Linked DNA regions of Homo sapiens. The protein of the gene in region 1 interacts with the protein of each later gene in a biochemical or structural test. Each region holds a gene or a part of one and is shown in the gene's direction. Other genes may lie near its edges.

Region 1 (7,035 bases):
GAGAGCCGAGTGGCCTCGCCCCCAGGATTCGGGGCCGGCTGCTTCTGGAGCTGACCCGAGTTCCATCCAGACAGCGCTGAACACTCTTATTAAAAGGCTATTTAAGTTTTATTTTATTTTATTTTATTTTTGCTTGCTTCTTGGGAGTGGTAGGAGGGGCATCGTGCTTTTGTTTTGAGGCAGGGGAGAGGTTAAAATTTACTCCAAGCAAACTTTTTGTCAGAAAAATGAGACTTTATACCGTATTCCATTTGTTGACTTTTTAAATACATTCAGGTCACTCTAAAGCCCATTCTTAGTCAATTAACAGATTAATTTCGTTCCAGACTGTCATAAAGAGTTCGCCTGGAATGGCAAATACTGCCATTCGACAAGACTAATAGAATTTCATGGGGGCAAACATGGAAGGGCTGCGAGTGTAACTGAGGTTCCTGTGCCTCAATGAGGAACCTTAGCGGGGACCTGGCGGGGACTGGAAGCTCAGCACCTATTTAGGGAGTGACTGAGCTGGAAACCTGGAGAAGCTTGGTGCAGACGAGACGGTGCTTCTTAGAGCTGCATTTTAAGTCCTCCCATTTTGCTGCATATTGGAAGAACTGGATTTTAAAGATCTTTTCCATCACCTCAGATTCTGTAGCTAACAGCCACGTCTTTTTCTTTTTGTCTGCTGAAAGCTGTGACCTAATTGTTTTAAGCACTTCTTGACAATTTCGCCAAACCCATCCTGAAAATATTCACATAAAGTCCTAAAATAGGATGTTGTGAGTGTAATATAAAAATAGGAAGGTACCAATGGAAGCAACAATTAGTGTTCTGAGATAGAAGCGGTTCCCAGTTTGTAACTTGGAAATGTTAAGAGCAGTACATCAGGGAGAAGGTCTCCAAGAGTCTGACTTCTTGTTCTGAGCTCTGAGTAAAGAAAGAAATATGTTAGAATTGTATTGTCTGCCCGCAGTAATATTGTAAAGGGTTCCAATGGATTCCAATGTGATTGAGCAATTACTTCCTCCAGCACCAAGTCCACAGTCCTTAATCTTCTTGTGAGAAGATTAGGTAGGAAGCGGGATGAGATTCAAGACAATCATTTAGGATTTATGTCAGAATTCAAAGTTTTGATTCTTTTGGTAGATAAAAACAGAGTTGGTTTTAAATTGTATTTCCTGCTTTCAAAAAAACGAGGTTTGAAAGGAATCCCCCTAGATTTACATAGGTTTACAGATGTAAGTTTCTTCTTTTTCCCTGTGTTTGCAAACTGGAGGGAGATGCCTTTGATATTCCAGAATACCTGTATCTATACACTTGTAAATTCTGCTAGGAAAGGACCTAAACAGCTAAACCAAAGGTGACCATGATTAATGTTAAAGATACTACCCATTGTTCTCTCTTTTGTTGTATTATTAGGCTTAAATACTTTGGAGTTAATGATTGGTCACTTAATTGAGTAACAGAGCCTTTGAGAGCGCAAAGATCAACTAACTCTGTCTCCCAAAGTCTGGCAACTAAGCCCTCCTTTCCTGGTGAGATTTAAACATTTTTGTTGACGTCATTCATGGACAAACATCGGTAAACACTGTATTTAAAATGGGATATTGCCCTGTGATGGAGCAGAACTTCTCAAGACACATGGTTCTTTTGAAAGAAAGAATTAATGACTGTAGTAAGGTATTTTTTCACCACCCACGTAGAGAAACCAGTTAGGACTGACAAACACTCATTGTTGGGAGTTACTTGCTCTGGTCTGAGAAAATATGCTGATTGTTACATAGGTCTGTATTTTACCAGAAAACACAAAGCATGTACTCTCCCTGATTTGGAATCAGAAAAGGGGGATTAGATATGGATGTCTTGGCCAAGCTCCATTTCAATTAGTGAATTTTTGCCAGTTTCCTCTTGTAGCCTAGACTTGGTAAATTACATATATATAAAGTCTGTGTGTGTGTGGGGGGTGCGTGTGTGTGTGTATGTATACAGGGTTTTTAAACACTGCTAAGTTCTTACCATTGAATGTGTTAGAGGTGGTTGTATTTCAGAGGTCAGTACAGAGAATCTTTGTTTAATGTGTCAGTTCTGTTTCCTGAAACACACCTCTGGGTAGATTTACCAACTATAAAAGGATACAAATGTATATACTTTCCACATCTGTATACATCCTACCTCATTCTTCTAAGGATTTTAAGAGGTGTTTATGTCTATAAAATGAGATTACATATTTTACAATAAACATATTTGATAAATTATAATCTTTTTATTATTAAATTATTGATTTGATATTACTTGAGGTATAGTGGAATGAGCACTAGACTTGGAATCAGAAAGTTTGAGTTGGACTCACTAGCTGAGAAAACCAAGCAAAGATATTACTTTTGGACCTTTAGTGTCATAATCTATTAAATGAATATGCAGTTATAAAGATCAAAAGAGTAAGTACTTTGAAAAACTATACAAAAAAGGGATGATAATATATTATGTCTTGGGATTCATATTGATCTAATTCTATAATTTTAATAATAACTGCATTACCCAAGCCATGTAGTTTCTACTGAATCTATAAAATAAATCAGAGAGGGGCATATTGTTTTAAAAATTGTTTAGTTTCATTAATCAGAAGACAGGTTACAGAAATTGACTCCAATGAAGTTGGACATTCAGTGGAAAGGAAGAATTATTCAATAAATGGTTTCAGGACAATTGATGGGTCCATGCAAAATAAGAATCAGTCTCTACCTGATTTCTCATCCTAAAAGAAATATAAGATGAATCAAATATGAAATGTAGGGAATAACTTTTTACAAAATGATAAAAGAAAATCATGGGATTAAAAAAAATAAGTTAGGAATAGAGAAACCTGTTCTAAGCAAAACATAAAACCCAGTGCCATTCTAGGAAATACTGATAGGTCTGACTAAGTAAAAATTACACAAAAGCAAATAATATATTTGGAAAACATCTACGACATTTGAGAGACAAAAAGCTAATAACTCTTGATATTCCATGGACTTTTATGAATAACTTTGAAAAGTCCACATCTATCAAAATATGAGCAAAAATTATGTACAGGTAGTGGCAGAAAGAGACATAGAGTTTTAAAATTATAGAAAAAATCGCTCAGCCTCATCTGTAATTAAATAAATAGTAATTAAAACACCAATGATATGCTACACCATTTTTTCACCAATCAGAGGAGTAACAAAAAAAAATAATTTTTTTCTTTTTTTTTTTTTTTGAGATGGAGTCTGTTACTCAGGTTGGAGTGCAGTGGCACGATCTCAGCTCACTGCAACCTCCGCCTTCCAGGTTCAAGCAATTCTCCTGTGTCAGCCTCCCTAGTAGCTGGGATTATGGGCACCCACCACCATGCTTGGCTAATTTTCGTGTTTTTAGTAGAGTGGGGTTTCACCATGTTGGCCATGGCAGTTGATCTTGAACTCCTGACCTCAAGTGATTCACCCACCTCAGCCTCCCAAAGTGCTGGGATTACAGGCATGAGCCACTGTGCCTGGCAAAAATAAAATTAAAAAGTTTGATGCAAGTTTGTGTTGGCCAGGTTGTGGAGAAACTGGGTCTCTCATATACTGTTGTATGAAAGTAAATAGGTTCCTCTACTTCAAAAAATAATTTGGCAATCACTTTTTTTTGATTCTTTATCAAAAGTTTTTAAAAGATGTATATACTCTTTGATTCAGCAATTCCACTTCTCGACATTATTATATGGATGGATATTGGTACCAATATCACCCAAGACAAATGGACAAGGATGTTCTTTGCAGCATTGCTTCTAAGAGCAAATATCTGGAAACAGTGTAAAGGCTCATCATAGGGAACCATTTAAATAAAAGTTGCTGTATCCACCTAATGGAAAACTATGCAGCTGTCAAAAATAACATGGAAAAATTGTATTTGCTGATTTGGAACATTCTCCAAAATATATTGTATTCTAAGTGAAAAAATTGATAGATAAAACTGAGTATATATTATACATCTAATTATGTAAAATGGGTGTATATTCATTCTTTTAACAAATATTTACTGAGTGTTCTAGGCATTGTGGATACAGGAGTGAACAAAACATCAAAGACTGCTCTGTTGGAACTTTTACTATGGTAGGTAGAGAAAGGCAATTCCCAATCACATATGCAAAATGGTGATATGTGCTAGGATGAAAATAGAGCATGGGAAAGGGAATAGAGTACAGTATGTCTTAGGTAGAGTAATGAGAAAGGAGTTCACCAGGCAGAGAACAGAGGAGTGCTAAGGGGCGACAATGTGAAAAAGCTTAGCCAAGTCCAGGTTCAGGAATTCACATGATGCTATTACTTGTATGAAGTAAATTCATGAAATTTCACACCTAAATCACGTGATTTCTCTCTGCTGTACAATGATTCTTTCTGTGAGAAAGAACCAGTGAGCAATATGATATGTGATGCTCATTACATCCACTTTGTAGCTGAAGTATCCTAGAAAGTTGGTTGTCTAGGGTACCTAATTAGCAGAATGGTGGACAAAACCACCGTGTCTCTGTCCTTAAGTCACCCCTTGTCAGCTGAGCTTCCCCAAAATCAAGGGAGAATACTAAATATCTATTTAATAGAATCTTGGCTTTCTCTCGGAGGCTGCCCATCCCTGGTGTGTCCCTTATCCTCCCTGCAGACATTTCTCATGGATAGGAGTTCCATTGACCTTGTCTTTTATGTCTCCCAGGCAATTAAACAGTCTCAGTACCCTGTACCTGGATTGTTCAATGACTTTCTTCCCTTCTCATTGACTTCACTGGAGTAGAAGGCTAAATATAGGCATTCACTCTCATATCTCTCAGGTCTTTCCATGCAGACAGAGTTGTTATCACTAGTAGACGGTGCTTATAAGAGAGACATGGAAAAGTGGAAGAATGGAAATAGGGATTTGGAGTGGTGCTAAAAACAAAGAAAGAGGCTTCTGAAAGCTTTCCATTTAATATGATCAAACATAGAAGACAAAAGATGTAACTTAATGACCAAGGATAGGGACATAGCCTTGAGAAAATTACAGAAGTGGAATGAACGTCTTGGACTCCAAAGAAGAGGGAATGGAAATGTAGTTCTGAGGCAGCTAAAGTCAATAAAGCCCTCTGATATATTTACTGTAGAAATAAATGATCATCTTTTAATTCAAGGTTTGCAAACTTAGGTGACTACAGGGGCGAGGCATGGAGTGGAAATGGGTAAGAGACTAAGTGGGGGCAGTAATGGCCTTGAGCACACAGACTTAAGGGGAGAGACTGCTGCTTGGTTAATGCTCATGATCAGCCAGCTGAAATATAGACTTAGTGTTGCTAGACCTTCTGATTTTTTGAAAGAAGTTAGAGATCTTATATTTAGTGTAAACAGTCTAATTTTTAAATTGAGTAACTTATTCAAACATATTTATGCAACTTATTCAAATGTATTTAGAGCATGTCTGATCTCCTCCTTGTATTCTTACCTAGTCTTAGGGGTAATCTTAAGGAAAGTGATGCGTATACTTGTTGTACCTATGTAGATGGAGGACCATTCTCCTCTCCCCAACAAAAGACACTTTTATAAGGATTGAGTGTGGCACAAAGAGTTCGATTTTTAGTATTTAAATTGAGTAGGAAACTCAAATACAGAAGATCCTTTCCTGGGTCACACCTTTGGTTTTTTTAAATGAGATTTGACTCTCTAGATATTGACAAACATCATATTATTGGGTCATGGTAAATCTTCAAGTGGACTGATTCAAAAGTGTTCAAAAGTATTTCAGGTGTTAAGGAATTGTTGGCACGGAGTTTCAAAGGTGTTTCTGCATAAGAAATAGAGGCGTTGATCATGTATTTGATCTACAAACATTCCTCAAGGATATACCCTGAACCTGGCAATGAAGAAATATTGTGGGAATTATTAAGTTGAATAAAGTACTAGCTCTGCCTTCCAGAAGCCTACTGTTCTACAGAGGAGATTAGACATGTTTACAGATAATTTGAAGTACATAGCAATAAATTATAGGATGATTTATTCCAAGCATAAAGTGTATATTGCTACTATAGTGGTAACCTAGGTTATAATTTTCAAATGTAAGAGCCCCAAATACTATTCTTTTTACTCTTAGTGATATGAAACTATGTTAGAACATCTGCAGAAAGTCTGAATTAGTAATTTTAATAATAAATATTGAGTACTGATATATTGTATATCACTGAGATTTATTTTATATACATTATTTTATCAATTCCTATGATCACTTCGGTAAGTACTAATTTTCACAACTAAGTAGTGACAGAAAATGAGGTTTAGAGAGATATAGTATTTTACCCAAAGTCACAGAATATAAGTAGAGAATGCAGAACTTGCATTCTGGGCTATTTGACAGTGGAGCCCAGACTTTTAAAATTAGGCTTATAAAGATTTCCTGGAAAAAAAGAAAAATAAAAAATAGAGAACAAATTTTCCTGAAGAAAAGTAGGAAATTATTATTTATAAGTATAATTAAAGAGAGATCTTTAATTTCTTTTTTTTTTTTTTTTTTGAGACGGAGTCTCGCTCTGTCGCCCAGGCGCAATCTCAGCTCACTGCAACCTCCACCTCCCGGGTTCATGCCATAAAGAAAGGTTTCTTATTTGGATTCAGCTAATACTCATGGAATGCATTTTCTTTAACACCTTTTTATCATAAAATACAATCTTTTACTTTGGCTGTGCAATTGATACCTTTATTTTTCCTTAAAATATTGTAATAGCATAGATATATGGTATATACTTCCTGCTTGCTGTGCTGTCTTATAAGAAATCCAGAAACATAGAAACATTATGGCATTTCCCAGTTAGTGTTTAACAAAGTCTATTAGCAGATCCTAGTGATTATAGGATAAATAACAAACTTAATTATCAGGGTTAATTTAGGATTATCAACCATATGTTTTTCATTGTGAATTATCAGTTGGTCTATAGATGGAAAATATAAGATGTATAATGTATTAGCTTAAAAAATGCTCTTCAGAGAGTGTCTAGAATTATAGAATTTAAAAATTTTGTTTTGAAAAGGT
Region 2 (4,489 bases), on another chromosome or scaffold:
TCTTCTCTTTACTAGTGCAAATGGAGTCTAGTGAGGAAAGGCTTCTTTCTCTGGGCTGGTCTCCCTATGTCTGTGGCAGGAAACCCACAGATGTGAAGATTTCTTTCAAACTCGCACCTACTGAGTGAAAGTATTTTCTGGCACAATCTACCCAGAGCTGTTTTCTGGCTACCGGAACCACCTGTTTTAATTGCCACTAGATGGAAGCAGATCAACTAGATTTTTTTTTTTTAAGATGTCCTTGAGGCACAGGAGGAGAGACTGGCTGGAAGAATATTAGCAAAAAGCTAATTACCATGCTAAGCAAATTGCTATATTAAGTTTAATGGTTCACTGATTTTTTATAATCAGTCAATTAATAGTTGTTTATTGAACATTTTTGTGTTGGAAACTGCTAAGCTTTCTTGAGACAGCAAGAGGAGTCAGCCTGGTCCCTGATTTCAGGAAAATTATTACCTAGCTGGGGAGTTAAGACAGGAATATAGAAAGAAAAAAATCAGAAAAATACAAGGCAGAGCATGGTAATGGCCAATGGGTGCTATATTTAAGAAGGAAAAGGTCATTTGGCTTGGTGGTTATAGAAAATGTTATAAAGAAGGTTGCTTATGAAGAATAGATAGGATTTAGGTATATGGAGAAAAGCAGGAAAGGAAGGCAGTCTGTAGGAAGGAAATTGTGTAAGCAGTGGTATGGTAGTGAGACTATGAAAGCATTTTTCAGGGGCCACTGAGCAGAACTTTCTTGAGCCCATGGCTTATTGAGGAGTTGTGGAGTTGAAGTTGGAAAGGAAGGCTGGCCCCAATAACATAAGTCTTGAATGCTTCACCAGATGGTCTAGAAAGGCCTAGCAAAGAAGAATTATTTGCCCAGCTCTCATTTATTGACCAAGGCTGTATTAATTCATAAGAATCACAGAATTCTAGGTCTGAATATGATCTTGGTGGATATCACATTCAAACTCTTTTTGTAGTTGAACTAATTAAGTAAGTTTTCTATAGGCCTTGAGCAAGTGACAGAGTTAGTTACAATAATCATAAACCTTTATCAAATATTAATTCCATGTTGTATACTGTTATGAATGGTTTACATGTCTTAAATCATGAAATATGCCTTTAAGTCTGTGGGAGAAGGGTCTATGAACATCTTCATTACTGATAAAGAAACAGGCACAGAGAAATAAAATAGCCTGAGGTCACAATAAATGGCAATGCTGAGATCCATACTCATTTGGATCCAGGAATCATGCTCTTAACGCGTATGCTTTTAGAACTCAAGACCCTTGACTACCAGCTTAGAGTGGCAAGTCCCAGGCACCCTCCTTTTCCAGTAACGTGGTTTTTTTTTTCACACTGAAACCATTGTGTGACGGCACTGAGGAAGGGTGGGGTAGAAGTATGGTGTGTTTTTAGAACAAGTCAAAGGTAAAATGAATACTATCACACTAAACACCATGAGCCTTTTTTTTTTTTTTTAAGTTCTTGGGTGAATTTTCATAGTAGTTTGTGTTCATTTCTATTAGCTTTTGAATGGTGAATGAATGACTCCTTGGGCATTTGTGGTTTCATTTCTTGCTGGGTTATTTTGACTCTTCTGCAAAATGACTCTGTTTATCACCTCATTTGGTTTCTACTGTCTAAATTCTGGCAGGATAGAAGCTACACCCAAGATACACAGGAAGATATGATGCCAACCTCAGAGGAGGGCATATGTGAAATTTTGTTTTCAGAAACATTTTTTTGTCTCTATTTTGGCAAGCACATTTGCAGCTGCTGAACTGTGGTTTACCCTGACAGTTCATCATGAGACCAGCTCCTCAGAATCTGGTTCTCCCTTTGAAAGGTGCTGTGAAGACATACCATATTTCATTCTCTCCTTGTCCTTTCCAAGAATAAGACAGTTGTGTCACACAAAAAAAGTGTCACTTATTTCTTTAAACTAAATGTGTTACCATCTCATTAAATTATATCCCAGGATATAATTTATCACGAGTTTATAACCACCACTATTTCATGAGTTTAAATTTTCTCCAATTTCACTTTCCATTTAAGCATGCCTTCTAATTCCTTGACTTTCCACTGCTCAAAATCAATCTACAGCTGGGCTCGGTGGCTCACGCCTGTAATCCCAGCACTTTCGGAGGCCGTGGCAGGTGGATCATGAGGTCAGGAGTTTGAGATTAGCTTGGCCAATGTGGTGAAACCCCATCTCTACTAAAAATACAAAAATTAGCTGGGTGTGCTGGCACGTGCCTGTATTCCCAGCTACTCAGGAAGTTGAGGCGGAAGAATCGCTTGAACCCAGGAGGCCGTGGTTGCATGAGCTGCCTCCGTGCCACTGCACTCCGGACTGGGCAACAGAGTGAGACTCCATCTCAAAAATAAATAAATAAATAAATTAAATTAAATTAAATTAAAATAAACATAAATTTAAAAAATCAATCTACACTGTCCTTCAGACTCATTAGATCTGGAGACAAAGACCGTATGCACCACAAAAATTTCTCCAAGTGGGGTCTGTGCGCCAGTGGCATAAGCATCACTAAAGAGCTTGTTAGGGGTGCAGAATCTCAGGCTCCACTCAGACCTACTGAATCAGAGTCTGCATTTTAACACCATCTCTGAGTGGTAAGCACATGAAAATCTGAGAAGTGCTGCTACTAGGGTTTGCTTACATTTGTTCATCTTCAGAGGTTCCTAAAGCCTGGCCTCTTGTCTGAGATTTCCAGCTGAAAGCATTTCCTTGCTCCTCTTCTCATCTCTAATGAATATTTACCTTTACTACTAACACTCCAAGTTTTGCAATTTTTAAACTCTTATTATCTTTTGTTTTTCTTTCAGTATGAATGACCCATATTAAATCGCCCTTGGTGAAAGAAAATTCTTGGAATACTAAAAATCATGAGATCCTTTAAATCCTTCCATGAAACGTTTTGTGTGGTGGCACCTCCTACGTCAAACATGAAGTGTGTTTCCTTCAGTGCATCTGGGAAGATTTCTACCTGACCAACAGTTCCTTCAGCTTCCATTTCGCCCCTCATTTATCCCTCAACCCCCAGCCCACAGGTGTTTATACAGCTCAGCTTTTTGTCTTTTCTGAGGAGAAACAAATAAGACCATAAAGGGAAAGGATTCATGTGGAATATAAAGATGGCTGACTTTGCTCTTTCTTGACTCTTGTTTTCAGTTTCAATTCAGTGCTGTACTTGATGACAGACACTTCTAAATGAAGTGCAAATTTGATACATATGTGAATATGGACTCAGTTTTCTTGCAGATCAAATTTCACGTCGTCTTCTGTATACTGTGGAGGTACACTCTTATAGAAAGTTCAAAAAGTCTACGCTCTCCTTTCTTTCTAACTCCAGTGAAGTAATGGGGTCCTGCTCAAGTTGAAAGAGTCCTATTTGCACTGTAGCCTCGCCGTCTGTGAATTGGACCATCCTATTTAACTGGCTTCAGCCTCCCCACCTTCTTCAGCCACCTCTCTTTTTCAGTTGGCTGACTTCCACACCTAGCATCTCATGAGTGCCAAGCAAAAGGAGAGAAGAGAGAAATAGCCTGCGCTGTTTTTTAGTTTGGGGGTTTTGCTGTTTCCTTTTATGAGACCCATTCCTATTTCTTATAGTCAATGTTTCTTTTATCACGATATTATTAGTAAGAAAACATCACTGAAATGCTAGCTGCAAGTGACATCTCTTTGATGTCATATGGAAGAGTTAAAACAGGTGGAGAAATTCCTTGATTCACAATGAAATGCTCTCCTTTCCCCTGCCCCCAGACCTTTTATCCACTTACCTAGATTCTACATATTCTTTAAATTTCATCTCAGGCCTCCCTCAACCCCACCACTTCTTTTATAACTAGTCCTTTACTAATCCAACCCATGATGAGCTCCTCTTCCTGGCTTCTTACTGAAAGGTTACCCTGTAACATGCAATTTTGCATTTGAATAAAGCCTGCTTTTTAAGTGTTAACTAGTTTGCCTAGTTTGTTATTTTGAAATTATCATATGTTTTGTTTTCTCCCCAGTGAGATTACATGCTCCTTCAGGGCAGAGTTTGTGTCAGATCCCTGGAGTATCTAGTGCATTACTTGACACTCAATAAATGAATGTTCAAATAAATCAGAAAGAGCATACAGTGCACTGCTGATATAAGTTTCAGCAAACCCTCTTTCTCTATGGCATCTGATGACCTGGGCAGATATCACCTAATGTCAACAGCTGAATTCTTATGAGAGAATAGAGCCCTTTCAGAAGCTAGCTGGAAATACCTCCTTGTCCCATGGCCAATATAGATTTCATACAAATTTGCACACATTATGAGAATAATTTTTTGGTAATGATTACACTTTTCTTTCTCAAAGACATCTCAGATTCTGTATTATAGCAAAAGCTGTTGCAAAAGATTCTCCCTATAGTACACTGTAAATCTTGGATGTGCAAATCACATTCATGTGGTTTAGGGTACATCCCCTGGAGGTGTACAGTG
Region 3 (7,035 bases), on another chromosome or scaffold:
CCATGTCCAGTCCCTGTCCCCTAGCCAGGGCTGTCTCCTGGACCCATGACCATTAGCCTCCTCTGTGCCTGGTGGGTCTGCAGGAGCCTGATGAGGGTGCCCCAGTGAGTCAGCAGATGTCCTTTTTGTACATGGGCCTTGGTGGCCCTGGGGCTGGTGCCGTGAGAGTCCTGGCAGGCCTGCTTTGTTGGTGTCCACATGTTCAGCCTCAACTGGTTGGGGACCAGATGTCCAGGTAGGTTCCAGAACCACCAGCCCAGTTTTTTCGCTGTTCCTATGGACCGTCATCTGGGGCCCCTGTGGATTTGTCCTGGGCACTTCATGGAGTGGGAATTAAAGCCACAGATGAGGTCCTGGTATCAAGATTAAACTCTTGGCCTCTGGAGTCAGGCAGACTTGGTTGGAATCCTAGTTCCTTTGCTTACCTGGGGCAGGTCACACAGAAGGAAGGCTCCTTCTCAGAGCCTTCACTGTGGCATCTGTCAAATGGTCTTGTATTCTTTACCTTGTTCAGTGCAAGGATGAATGATAGGATGCCTGTCAAGGGCTTTTGGCAGTGCCTAGTGATGCATTCAGCATTGCCACCACTGTTGCTGTTACCGTTGCCGTGCTTCAGCAGCTCAGAGGGGGAAGATGAGGCCCAGAGAAGGGCAGGATCTTGCCCCAGGCACATGCCGGGTCTTTGGCACAGCCAGGACTGGACACCTTGGCTCTAATGACTCCCACTTCTGCCCCAGCCTTCCTGATGCCCTGAGTTTTATCTAGACCCAGTCAGCCTTGGTTCCGATTGACCCAGATCTCTGTCACTATAATGCAAGATGGCAGAAGTCTGTGCATAGGGGTTAAGATGCCTGCTGTCCACAGGTGCCAGGGCTCAGGAGATCCTACAGGAAGAGCTCATATCCTGTGTGGTACAGGTGGGAGAACAGATACCTGGATCTCCCATCAGGGTGAGGCAGAGGCAGGGGTGAGTGTGTGGGGGTTGGACCAGGCCAGACCTGGGCAGATCAACCAGAACAGATGTACCAACCACCCTTGCCAATCCAATGTGGGTACAGAGAGTAAGTCCAGTCCAAGGAAGTGCTACTTGCTGAGATTGGCTCTAAGGGGAATGGTTGAGTACTGGTGTGAAGGCCAGGTTAGTACCCAGAAGAGTCTGGCTGAAGGTAGAGTTTGGGAGGAAGTCCGGCTTCAAAAGTCAAAGGCAGGTGGGTGGAAGGGAGTAGGTGGGCAACAGAGCCAGGCACGATCCTGGCCAGAGATCCATGCTTCCTCCTGTGAGGAAGATGCTGGTGAGGGTGAGCTGAGCCTGAATCCTGGAGGTACTGTCTAGCCTGTGGTGTGCTAGGAGGAGCCCTGGGTCCAGGTCTGTCCGCCGCCTGCCTGCAGTGCTGAGTCTCTGCGGGACCAGACCGCCAGCCATCATGGCCCTGCCTGGAGGCACCGGCTGGGACTGATTGGGCTGCAGCTTAATGTAAACACCCTCCATATGAAACACGTTCCTCATACGTGACTTCATGCAGCTACTCTCTCTGTGGGCTCTGCTGCCTGGGTGGGGTGGGAAGGAGGCCCTGGGCTGGCACAGAGCTTAGAGGGGCTGTAGGCCTCCCCCTGAAGTCCTGGCTGCATGCTTTCCCCACAGTTGTCATACAAAGAGCTTCCCAAGGCAGCTCAGCCTCAGGAGCCTTCTTTTCCACTCTCACCTGCTCCCCAGCACAACCCTGGGAGATGGGTTTATTCCAGAATCTGGAGGCACAGAGAGGCCTAGTGCTGCCCAAGTTGACCCAGCTAGGGAAGGCCCAGGTCAGTGGTCACATCTGATCCAATAGAGCCCAGATTTGGAGCCCTTTCTGCTGCTAAGGATGATCCTCCTTGATGTCACTGAGGTCAGGGGTCTGAATCCATTGTAACACTTTAGTGAGAGCTTCTTTGTGGATCTGACCCTGTCCTATTGTAGAGGACTCAGTGATGAAGACTTGGACCTGGCTCTGATGGGTTCATTCTTACTGCTTGAGGTCTGTTCATTCATTTGCCCATCCATTCATCAATCCATCCATCCATCCATCCATCCATCCATCCATCTATCCATCCATCCATCCATCCATCTACCTACCTACCAGTCCATCCATCCGTCTGTTCATCTGTCTGTCCACCCATCCATCTACCCATCCACTCATCCACTCTTTCATCTACCCATTCATCCATCCATTCAGCCCCACACCCATTCATCCATCCATTCACGTATCCATCCACCTACCCATCCTTCCATTCACTCATCCACCCATCCACCCACTCACCCATCCATCTATCCATCTACTCATCCATTCATCTACCCATCCATCTATCCATCCACCCACCCATCCATCCATTCAGCCAAATACTCATTCATCCGTCTACCCATGTATCCATCTATCCACCCATCCTTCCATCTACCCATCCATCCTCCTTCATTCATCCACCCATCCAGTTACAACCCATCCACCCATCCATCCATCCATCCATCCATCCATCCATCCATCCATCCACCCATCCACCCACCCATTCATTCACCCACCCATCTACCCACCCATCCACCCACCCATCCATCTAACCATCCATCCATCCATCCATCCATCCATCCATCCATTCATCCACCCCCCCCACCCCCCCACCCATTCATTCACCTACCCATCCACCCACCCATCCATCTACCCATCCACCCACCCATCCACTCACTCACCCATCCATCCACCCATCCATCTACCCATCCATCTATACCCATCCGTCTATCTATTTACCTGCCCACCCACCCATCTATCCATCCATCTATCCACCCATCCACCCACCCACCCATCCATCCATCCTGCTTCATCCATCCTTGCTGTCTGCTGGGCACACAGAGGTCTTGATGAGGACCTGCACTAGTTTCCCAAAGCTGGTTGTCTCAGCCACCTACTCTGACCAAGCTGGCTCTGTCTTGAGCTCTAACCCCTGTCCTAGTTTCAGAGGCAGAGATGGCGGGCCGAGAGGCCCTGTCACTGGGCACAGAGGCCGAGCTGCCGAACAGCCTGCCGGGCGATGACCAGGATGAGTGCCTTCTCCTCCCGGGAGAGCTGTGCCAGCACCTTTGCATCAATACTGTGGGTTCTTACCACTGTGCCTGCTTTCCTGGCTTCTCACTGCAGGACGATGGCCGCACTTGCCGCCCAGGTAAGGGCCCTGATGGCCAGGGCAGGGGCTATGGGAAGGGCTGATCTTGCCAGGGGGTGTGGCATTCCTGGGGTGCACACTGTGGGGTCCTTCACTTCCTGTTACCCCACAAGTTGGAACCCACAGAAGCCTGAAGCTTCCAGTGATGGGGGATTTGTGAGGCAGGAAAAATAGAAGCTTTCTTCCTGGGGCTCCATCTGCAGGGACCTGGCCCCAGCACCTTGTCCCATATTCGAGCGCAGGGACAGGCTCAGGCCACAGAGGCTCTCACCAAAACCCAGCTATCTCCCCAGTGCTGGGCCCATGGTGATCCTGAGGGATTTCCTCCCAGTCACTGGTCCCAGAATTGATTGGTTTTTAATCCAGACACTCTTTTTCCTTTCCCCCCTCTCTTCTTCCTTGCCTCCTTTCCTTCTACCCCCTCTGCCCCCAGTAGCTGAGATTGATCTTTCCCAAGGTATATGCACACTCCAAACCTCATTTTCCTCTCCTGTGAAATGGGGTGGGGGATTAAATGTCAGTGCCCTGTGTGAGAAGGGCAGGTGCCTGGAAGTGCCTGAGGCCTGGCTGAAGACCTGAGACCTCCCTGCAACCCCCACTCTGCTCTACCCATGACAGAGGGTCACCCTCCACAGCCGGAAGCCCCACAGGAGCCTGCACTGAAGTCAGAATTTTCCCAGGTGGCCTCTAACACCATCCCGCTGCCACTGCCGCAGCCCAATACCTGCAAAGGTAAGCAGTGTGGGTGGTGTCTCCAGGACAGGGCCCAGGGTCCAGGGGGTGGGTCTGGGCTGCTTGCAGGTGGTGAGCTGTCTGGTGCTGGGTATGTGCAAGATGGCCCCTCCAAAGGGTGTGCTTCTGTTTTGGGGATGATGGGCTTACCCTGGGCTGAGTGAGGAGCTGAGGAAGTCACTGGGGAGATGTGGTGTGGGGACAGCCTAGGGCCTGGTGTGTGACCCCAAACCAGCCAGTTAGCTGCTTTTTGTCTCCATTCTTGTAACGTTGAGGTAGTCAAATCCTGGTTTGCCGACCTGTTGTGGAGGCTGTGTTCAGCGCTGTGTAGAAAGTCCTCTTCTTTGTTGTTCTTCTCCTCATTCCCTTCCCCTGCTTTTTTCCCTGCCCCCTTCCCTTTCTCTTCTTCCTTCTCTCTTCTCCTCCATCTCCCCATTGTTCTTGCTGTCACGCAAGGCATGGGCTGGGATCCGAGTGGTGGGGGAGGTAGACCCAGAACGTCGTCCCCGACGCCAGACGGTGTTGGAGCAGACTTAATGGATGAACCTGTGAAAAGGACCAGGAGTGGCGTTCCTTGTCTCCCAGCATCCCTGCCTTCTAGGGGCCTTGTTTCTGTGTCTCACTAGTAGGTTAGAGCCAGGGATGGGGAATGAGCCAGTGTGGACCAAGGCCAGGGCCTGGTGGTCTCTGATTTCTGTGTGGTTTCCTCCAGACAATGGACCCTGCAAGCAGGTGTGCAGCACTGTTGGGGGCTCAGCCATATGCTCCTGTTTTCCCGGCTATGCCATCATGGCGGATGGCGTGTCCTGTGAAGGTGAGTGCCTTGGGGTGCCCTCCTACCTGTGCAAACCTGAGTTGGCCTGTGATGGGGGCCTCCAGGTGGGGGTGGCTGAGACTTAAAACTTGCTGAGTTTGTGCAGGAAGAGTCTTGGCTGCTATGATGAGCACCCCTAGTGGAGCAGGTTAAACAGTCACTCCCTCTCACCGTACGTGCGGTGTATACATGCACTCCAGGGTGGGCCTGCAGTGTGGCTGCATAGGAATGGGGCCCGGGCTCCTCACATGGTGTCGCTCCGCATTTCCCGGAGCAGTGCTTCTCCTGCCGAGTGTGCACCTGAGTCCCTGGAGGCCTGGGTCAAACAGGCAGTCCTGAGATTCTGCCGAATCCCCAAAGATCGAGTCAATAGGTCTGGGTGGGTGGGCCTGAGAATTTGTGCTTCTAACAAGGTGATACGGATGCTGCTGGTCCGCGGACACCACCTCCACTCACCTTGCCCTTGAGGGTTGCCCTGGTCTGTGCAGCCATGTCCAGGCCTGGGTGGAGAGGGGGAAGGGGAAGCAATGCCGGTTGTTTTAAGGGCAGCCAGAAGTGTCCCCGATGGGGAGTGGGAGGGAGGCTGGACAGCAGGAATGCCTGGCTGAATCTGTTCCCAAATGAAGGACACTGGTGATGATTAGCTGTCCAAGGATCACATACCTTCCACCCCCGTGGCCCCGCCTAGGTCTGGGTCTTGTCTTTGTGGGGCCTCTGTGGGCCAGGACCCCCCACTGTAAAATGAGGCCATTGGATCCAGCACCTGCTGGGTTGGTTCCCACAGTGAATGGCTTCTGAAGAACCAAGCTGAGAGGTCTCAAGACTCTACCTCCTGCCTGGGGGCAGGACAGAAATGGAGTATGCAGAGTCTAGGAAGTATGGCAGTTCTGGCTCAGAGATGAGACCCTGGTGGGTGTCTGGGGGAGAACAGAGTCAAGTCTGCCTGGGTGAATACCCACATCCCTCCCAGAAGCTGAAAGCCCGTGTCCATCCCCAGCCGAGACTGTTCTGATGTGGACAAACACCGTCCTACGAGCCCAGAGAGGACAGTAGACTTGCCCAGGGTACATGACGTGGCAGTGACCGGCAGGCCTTCCTCTCCGATGCTGGGGGCAGCTCTCAGGTCCAGGTGGTGCTGGGTTCTCTGGGCCCCGCCCCCCATCTCCCAGGGCCCTGAAGATGTAAGAGCTGCATCTTTTCTGGGGCAGGCCTCCTTTGGGCCCAGCCCTGTGAGGCCCCTCTGCCTGTGCTGCTCATGCAGCCTAGCCCATGTCTGCGCATCCCCAGGACCCCCTCCCTCCTCTGGAAGCCCTGGCAGTGAAAGCTGGGGTCCAGGTTGCAATGGGCATTCAGAGAGGCACCTGCTCTGCGGAGGAGCGCTGCTCAACTCTGCTGCATTGGAAATAATCAAGTGAGTTCCAAACGTGTTGAGCACAAGAATGATTAAAACACTTCCAGATTTTAGGTTTCTCTTGGTGTGAAATCTGCATACAAGGGGCCCACACCCCTGTCCCCTTTTGGATGGAGCACAGACACTCAGTGTCCTGGAGCCCCTGTGGGCCCTTCCCTGGTTTATGTGGCTGGCCTGGTCCCCTAAGTACTGGACTTTGCAAGCTCTCGGGGGCATGGTTCTCTTGGCGCCCGTGGATGTGGGAAGTATCGAGTGCGTACGGGAGGCAGCCTCTGGTCCTGTCCCCACTGTGACCGTGGGCAGCCACCCACCCTCTCTGAGTCTCACCTCACCACCGTCCTTACTGGGGCAGTGGGGACCAGCTCTGCACACTCACACTTGGGCCCAAGGCCCAGCTACACACAGTCAGGCGGGGAGGCCCCAGACAGGCCCCTGCCCCTTGCTGGGTCTCATTCTCCTGTCACTGGATGCTCCGTGGCAGCCCATGTCCCTCTAACAGTCCTTCTGTTTTTCCTCCTGCGGCTGCCACTAGACCAAGACGAGTGCCTGATGGGTGCTCACGATTGTAGCCGGCGACAGTTCTGTGTGAACACCCTGGGATCCTTCTACTGTGTCAACCACACAGTGCTCTGTGCCGATGGCTATATCCTCAATGCGCACAGGAAGTGCGTGGGTAAGCCAGGGCCCCGCCTGCCGCCCGCCGTCACAGCTCTCCGCTCTGCTCCACGCCAAGCCCACCACACTGTGGCCACATGCCAAAGGGCCTGCCCTTTGCATGTGAGCTCTCAGCACAGCCGGCATCTCCGTGCTCTATGTCGTGCCCTTGTGTCCTGGCGTCTTGTCCCGCTTGGCTGCCAGCTCCACCCGGAGGCTGCTTTCCCCAGGGACG
Region 4 (7,035 bases), on another chromosome or scaffold:
CATGGAAAATAAAAATCACTATTTTGTCTCCTGCAGTGAGAGAGTGTGGAGAACTTGAGCTCCCTCAACACGTGCTCATGAACTGCAGCCACCCTCTGGGAAACTTCTCTTTTAACTCGCAGTGCAGCTTCCACTGCACTGACGGGTACCAAGTAAATGGGCCCAGCAAGCTGGAATGCTTGGCTTCTGGAATCTGGACAAATAAGCCTCCACAGTGTTTAGGTATGTAGACCTTATTCTTTTCATCCTCACTGACATAGAATTTTGGGGGAGAAGAGGACACAATGAGCTTTCTCCATTAAAAAATGTGAGAAATAATGACCATCTAGGTTAGATGGAAAACTCTGGTTATCACTGTTAACTGTCAACCAGAGTAACATTAATTTCAATTTTCATGGTATTTTTTTATGGGTAGAGTGACTTAGTCAGTTTAATTGTTGATTCGCAGGCAAAAACATTACAAAGGGACCCCTCTTTCCCTTTGTTAATTGTAAAGTAAACAGAGTACAATGATGAGGACTTAGGGGTTAAGAATTATTAATTTGATAATTTTACCTAACTTCTCTACATGAAAAACAAGGGTGTTTGATCTTTCCAAGCAGCTATTGAAAACACCATTTAACCATTCTAGTGCATCAACCTGCCTGCCACTTTGGGAAGGTGTGACTGCTGCAGAATTTGAAGGCTTCCAAGGTGATGGACAAAATTTGTCCAAGGACTCACACTATTATTCTGTGGTTGGTTTTAGCTGCCCAGTGCCCACCCCTGAAGATTCCTGAACGAGGAAACATGACCTGCCTTCATTCTGCAAAAGCATTCCAGCATCAGTCTAGCTGCAGCTTCAGTTGTGAAGAGGGATTTGCATTAGTTGGACCGGAAGTGGTGCAATGCACAGCCTCGGGGGTATGGACAGCCCCAGCCCCAGTGTGTAAAGGTGAGTTTCAGGTAGTTGGGATGTATAATGTCCATTGCACCCAGTCCTTACTTAGTGCATAGATGAAATTGACCAGCTTATGGAGAAGCTGGCCTGAATTGCCAAAATTTAATTCTCTTCCTACCTGCCATTCAGCTAGATTGGGTTCATCTGAGATGAGAAAGGAAAAAAATTCCTTTCTTTCCCCAAACACAAATGCAGGCAGTTTCAGAATGGCCTCATTCATAATTTCCCCATAAGATTAGAAAGGGTGGCCTCTACATCTATAAGTGGACACTAGAAGACCTACTGAGACAGGTTTATAGAAGTATAGGGAATAGAGGACATTAAGAATACAGCTTGGAGGAATCTTTGTTTTTAACAGACTCAGATCACCCTGGGAACTGGTAATCCAAGTCTGGACAAACATCATTAGGGTCTCTTGACCTTTACATCTTGCTAGCTCCACCTGCATTTCAGAGGTGGTTCCACCATTGCTCTCTGTGTGGCTTTTCTCCTTTCTCAGTATCTTTCTCTTTATCCTTGGTTATTCTCTCCAGCTGTGCAGTGTCAGCACCTGGAAGCCCCCAGTGAAGGAACCATGGACTGTGTTCATCCGCTCACTGCTTTTGCCTATGGCTCCAGCTGTAAATTTGAGTGCCAGCCCGGCTACAGAGTGAGGGGCTTGGACATGCTCCGCTGCATTGACTCTGGACACTGGTCTGCACCCTTGCCAACCTGTGAGGGTAGGATTTTTCATTAGCAACCTCCATTCTGTCCAAGAAGGAATCATGGCATGGTAGAGAGGCCAAGGGCTCTCAGTGTCGGGGTGATCTCTTCTAAGTTCTTGCACTAGAGCAAGCTCTTCAACCTCCAGGAACCATGGTTTTCTCATCTGTGAAATGGAGCTAAGAATTGCAAGGTGCTTGTGAGGATTAAGTACATAAAAAGTATACAATTAAATAGCATGTATAAAGTACCTAGCATAGAGCTTCTGCTCTACTGACATATCCGAGGTATAGGACCATGTCCTATACTTGAGAGGGAGTTGGGAGCAGCGGCTAAGGTGGCTAAAGAGAGTGGTTCACCATGTAGTCTTTGAGGGTAGCCTTTGACAAAGAAGCAAAGGAAGGAACACTGCATCGAAAAAGTGTGTGATGCAATCCCAGGCAATTACATAATTCCGCCAAAATGAATTCTCTGCAATTGCCTCACACCCTCAGTTTATAAGGCGGACAGTGGTAATGGGAGAATAGGAAATTTACGATAGATTAGTGAATTCCCAGACCTGGATGACAAGCCCAACCCTGCTACTATCTAGCTATGAGACTTTAGAGAAGTCACTTAACACTTCTGAACCTCACTTTTCTTGCCTAAAACATAAGAGAGAAGAGAGAAACACTAGAGGATTTTGGTGTTTTTGTTTGTTTGTTTGTTTGTTTGTTTGTTTGTTTGTTTTGAGACAGAGTCTCACTCTGTCGCCCAGGCTGAAGTGCAGTGGCACGATCTCAGCTCACTGCAACCTCTGCCTCCCAGGTTCAAACGATTCTCCTGCCTCAGCCTCCCGAATAGCTAGGATTACAGGCAACTTTTTGTATTTTTAATAGAGACTAGGGTTTCACCACTTTGGCCAGGCTGGTCTCAAACTCCCGACCTCAAGTGATTCACTCACATCAGCCTCTCAAAGTGCTGGGATTATAGGTGTGAGCCATTGTGCTCAGCCGGATTTTTGGTTCTTAAATGCTCTGAGTCTGTAAAAACCAGAGGTCAAAGCCCAGAGCAAAGAGGTAGTCTTTACACTTTGAAAAGTTTCAGAAATAGCCTGGAAATGAAATGCTTTATCAAGGAAGAGCATGAGGAAACCAATCTTTATCAGAACTGAGGTCACTCAGGGCTTAATTGTGCTCAGGAATTCACTTTGGCTGCACTCACTTGGCAACTGAAGTCTGATTAGGATGACATCCTGTGTTCTAGAGACAAAGCCCGGTCAGGATCATTTTACAGGACTAGGTAACAGTGTCAACAATAAGCTATGCTAGTCCAGCTTTTTTTTTTTTCCCTATAAGTCCAGCATTTTCCTGTATATACTCTTTTCAGGTTCAATTTCACAGATAATGTCAATATTTAATGAGCACTTTCAATGTACAAAACACTCTGCTCAGCTCCAGAATAAAACTATGAATGACTGAGCCCAACTTCGAGGAGACCACGGTATAATGGGGAAGAATGACAATCATGTATGAACAGCGCAAGAACAGAGGCTGTGGGAGCACATTGCAGGGGCTTCTACCCTTAGTTAAGGTGGGAAGGGAGGGCTTCCTAAGGAAAGGGAAGTCTAAGCTGAGACCTGAAGGGCAGGTGAGAGTGAGTCAGGCCAAGAGGGGCATGGGAAGGTGTTCCAGGCAGTCTCTCTTTTGGAAAATGGAGGTTTTAGGGTTCTGAACACACTGAAAATGTGGACAGGAAAGATATAGCATCTAGGAATTTTTTCTGAGGAAGAACCCGGCCCTTCCATTACCTGGCTTTAGAAGATACCTTTTCCACTTAGCTATTTCGTGTGAGCCGCTGGAGAGTCCTGTCCACGGAAGCATGGATTGCTCTCCATCCTTGAGAGCGTTTCAGTATGACACCAACTGTAGCTTCCGCTGTGCTGAAGGTTTCATGCTGAGAGGAGCCGATATAGTTCGGTGTGATAACTTGGGACAGTGGACAGCACCAGCCCCAGTCTGTCAAGGTACTGTAACAGTGGTAATGTTTTTCTGTGTGTCTCAGCTCGTTAGAGGCATCAGCATCTGCACTGAGCATTGGCATGCCTTTCTTTATCAGATATTCACTGAGAACCTACTATGGGCCATGTCCTTTGTGCTTGGGACCAGGGATGAGATGAAACGGTGCGTGAAGCCAGTCTTAGGCACATGTCCACTATAGTATAGTCAAGGTGAGGTTTGCACTGATTGACACATATAGGGTGCATTGGAATGAAGAAGATGGGGCTTGGGGGAATAAATCATGCATGAGGAATAGCATGGGATGGGGAAGGGTAATGGACAAGGTGTTTAGCTCAGTCCTGTCACTTCCTGTCCTTAAGCTAGTGGTTTAGACTCTCTGAGGCTCAGTATCTTCTGTAAAATGGGGCTACTATTATCAGCCTTACCTACCTGCCTCACTAGTAGTTGTGAATTAATGTGTGTAAACGCAACTTTAAAACTCTTATAGGATTTATAGGGAAAATGATGATGATGACATGTTACCTTATAAATCACATGTCTGTGGTCTGATTTGACAAAATGATCCTCTTTCAATATGTTAGGTTTCTAATCTTTTGCTCTTATACTAAGGCACTCATGGGGGGCGGGTGTGGTGGTTCACAAGGATTATTATTTTTTTTACGAGGAGTACCTCACACTAAAGTCATGTTCCAGAAGTGTAATATTGACATTTTGTGTTTTCATTTACGGAGACCTCTGAGCAATCTATGTGACTCCTCTGGGTTCCTAAGTATACCTTGATTTTAAAATGAGGCAGTGGTTTGAAAGCAGGTCTTGAAGAGATATTTGTGCACCCATGTTCATAGCACTATTAATCACAACAGTTAAAATGTGGAAGCAACCCAAACACCCATCAATGGATGAAAGGATAAGTAAAAAGTATTCCACATACTTACAGTGGAATATTATTCAACCTTAAAGAGGAAGTAAATTCTGACCTCTGCTACAAACATGAATGAACCTTGAAGACATTATGCTAAGTGAAATAAGCCACTATGAAAGGACAAATACTGTATGATTCCACTCATATGAGGAACTTAGAGTAGTCAAAGTCATAGAGACAGAAAGTAGAACGGAGGTTGCCAAGGGCTCGGCGGAAGAGGGAAATAGGGAGTTATGGTTTAATGGATACGGAGTTTCAGTTTGAGATGATGAAAAGAGTTTTGGAGATGAATAATGGTGATGGTGGCACAATAATATGAATGTGCTTAATACCACTGAACTGTACACTTGATATTGGTGACATGGTAAATGGTAAATTAAATTTCATGCTACGTATATCTCACTATAATAAAAAATTGAACAGCAAAAAAAAAAAAAAAGAAAAAACAAGAAGGCAATAGAATAGATGGCTATACACCATGATGCTGACACTTAGTCTGAGTTATGGAATGTATTGTATATGTTATCTGGGAGAAAAAGACACAATGAGCTCTTTGACACACTTAAAACGGATCATAAGGGATTATTCAAGCCATTGTTGTCTCCAGGAAGGTAAATGTCTAATCAAGAAAAGATAGTTGGATATTCTCTTAAGTATCCAGAGATGTGGTCTCACTAACCCCCTTCATAGGCCTTCTGAATGTTTCCCACTCCTGAACTCAGTGTCTGCATGTGACGCAAAGCCTTAATGATATTATTACTATCTATTACTACCACTGCTACTAATATAGCAGCTAATGTTCATTGAGCACTTTCTATGATCTCAGTCTAACTCTATGAGGTAGTTACAATTATTACTACCATTTTAAAGATGAGAAGAGACAACACATGGAATATGTGTGCTCTCTTCGTATATGGTTATTTATTTTACATCTTTGAGATCATGGTGTATATTATAATTTTTACTCTGATTTTTTATTTAACATCATACATTGAGACCTCTCTCCTATCTTTACAAGTTAAAATATATTATTTTTAGTGACCTTTAACATTCTTTTCATGGATCCACCATCATTAATTTCCACCCTCAATTAATGGCATTTGTGTTTGTTTTCAATATTCCGCTCTTACAAATAATGTCTTCACAAAAATCTCTAAATAGATTTTTTGGTATGCATCTTGATTACATACTTAGCATAAATTCTTGGGTCCAAAAGCATGATAACTTAAAAATTATTGACACATGTTGCCAAGATGCTCAACAAAGGTTTAGCATTTCCTAATAAAATCCTTCATGTGCCGTTATAATTAAATGACACTTTTTCTTATCTTCTATGTTAAACAAGCCCAATTCAGGAATCCCTGTTCTTGACACTAGAAAGAGTTAATGGTCAAAAATCAATGAGTACATGTGTATTACTGTTTCTTTATTCCTTACTTCCTCATCCCTTAGCTTTGCAGTGCCAGGATCTCCCAGTTCCAAATGAGGCCCGGGTGAACTGCTCCCACCCCTTCGGTGCCTTTAGGTACCAGTCAGTCTGCAGCTTCACCTGCAATGAAGGCTTGCTCCTGGTGGGAGCAAGTGTGCTACAGTGCTTGGCTACTGGAAACTGGAATTCTGTTCCTCCAGAATGCCAAGGTAAGAGTGTATTCTTTCTAACATCATGGAAATAAATTGTAGGCAGTATTTTTAAAGGCTGGATTTTAGAGGTGACAACTATGTAAGATCCACCTTGAAATGGACTGGAAAATTCATAAATACTCTCACTCATCCTCTTGTCCTATAACCCAAGGATCCCAAATGCAAATGCCTCCGGGGGATAGGCAGATTACACAAGTGTCAGGATGTCTGGCCATAGACAGTAGGGCATGGCCCTTGCTAACTCCTTATCAGGGTCTTTACCCAGACCTGAAGGCTCCTGCCACAAACCAGGTAAACTCTTCTCACCTGGCCAAACATGGCATCTGGAAAGAAGACCAGGTGGGAAAAAAATTGCTTCAGAGTGGTTGTCCCAAGGCTGGTCTGGCACTTCTAGGAACCACAGGGTATAATGGTAAAATGGGAGGGGCAGAATTTACAAGTACCCAGTTGCAAACACTCCAAGATCTGTATAAAATTGGAGAAATAGACTTAGAATAAGGTGAAGAGTGATAGAAAAAAGAGAAAAACTAATCTGTATACTGGAGGTTACGGGATTCTCAGAAGAAAGAAATGTGTGGATTCAGTATAAACATTCTATCTGCATTGTACTTGATATACATACATTTTTTGAGACGGAGTCTCACTCTGTCGCCCAGGCTGGAGTGTAATGGCACAATCTCGGCCCACTGCAACCTCCGCCTCCCGGGTTCAAGCAATTCTCCTGTCTCAGCTTCCCGAGTAGCTGGGACTACAGGTGCCCACCACTGCACCCAGCTAATTTTTGTATTTTTGGTAGAGATGAGGTTTCACCATCTTAGCTAGGCTGGTCT

Evidence for each region.
Region 2: the proteins of VCAN (region 1) and SELL form a complex in vitro, tested with the Homo sapiens proteins (one study listed by BioGRID).
Region 3: the proteins of VCAN (region 1) and FBLN2 form a complex in vitro, tested with the Homo sapiens proteins (one study listed by BioGRID).
Region 4: the proteins of VCAN (region 1) and SELP form a complex in vitro, tested with the Homo sapiens proteins (one study listed by BioGRID).

The regions. Positions count from the first base shown.
Region 1 is NC_000005.10:83,474,744-83,481,778, forward strand, and holds part of VCAN (versican core protein isoform 1 precursor), read left to right. Parts: intron 1-7,035. UniProt on the Homo sapiens protein: May play a role in intercellular signaling and in connecting cells with the extracellular matrix. May take part in the regulation of cell motility, growth and differentiation. Binds hyaluronic acid.
Region 2 is NC_000001.11:169,690,151-169,694,639, reverse strand, and holds the end of SELL (L-selectin precursor), read left to right. Parts: intron 1-2,837; coding exon 2,838-2,856; 3' UTR 2,857-3,973; downstream 3,974-4,489. UniProt on the Homo sapiens protein: Calcium-dependent lectin that mediates cell adhesion by binding to glycoproteins on neighboring cells. Mediates the adherence of lymphocytes to endothelial cells of high endothelial venules in peripheral lymph nodes.
Region 3 is NC_000003.12:13,615,097-13,622,131, forward strand, and holds part of FBLN2 (fibulin-2 isoform a precursor), read left to right. Parts: intron 1-2,979; coding exon 2,980-3,189; intron 3,190-3,284; exon of another isoform or gene 3,285-3,452; intron 3,453-3,807; coding exon 3,808-3,921; intron 3,922-4,633; coding exon 4,634-4,735; intron 4,736-6,678; coding exon 6,679-6,819; intron 6,820-7,035. UniProt on the Homo sapiens protein: Its binding to fibronectin and some other ligands is calcium dependent. May act as an adapter that mediates the interaction between FBN1 and ELN.
Region 4 is NC_000001.11:169,606,116-169,613,150, reverse strand, and holds part of SELP (P-selectin precursor), read left to right. Parts: intron 1-36; coding exon 37-222; intron 223-748; coding exon 749-934; intron 935-1,473; coding exon 1,474-1,659; intron 1,660-3,461; coding exon 3,462-3,647; intron 3,648-6,016; coding exon 6,017-6,202; intron 6,203-7,035. UniProt on the Homo sapiens protein: Ca(2+)-dependent receptor for myeloid cells that binds to carbohydrates on neutrophils and monocytes. Mediates the interaction of activated endothelial cells or platelets with leukocytes. The ligand recognized is sialyl-Lewis X.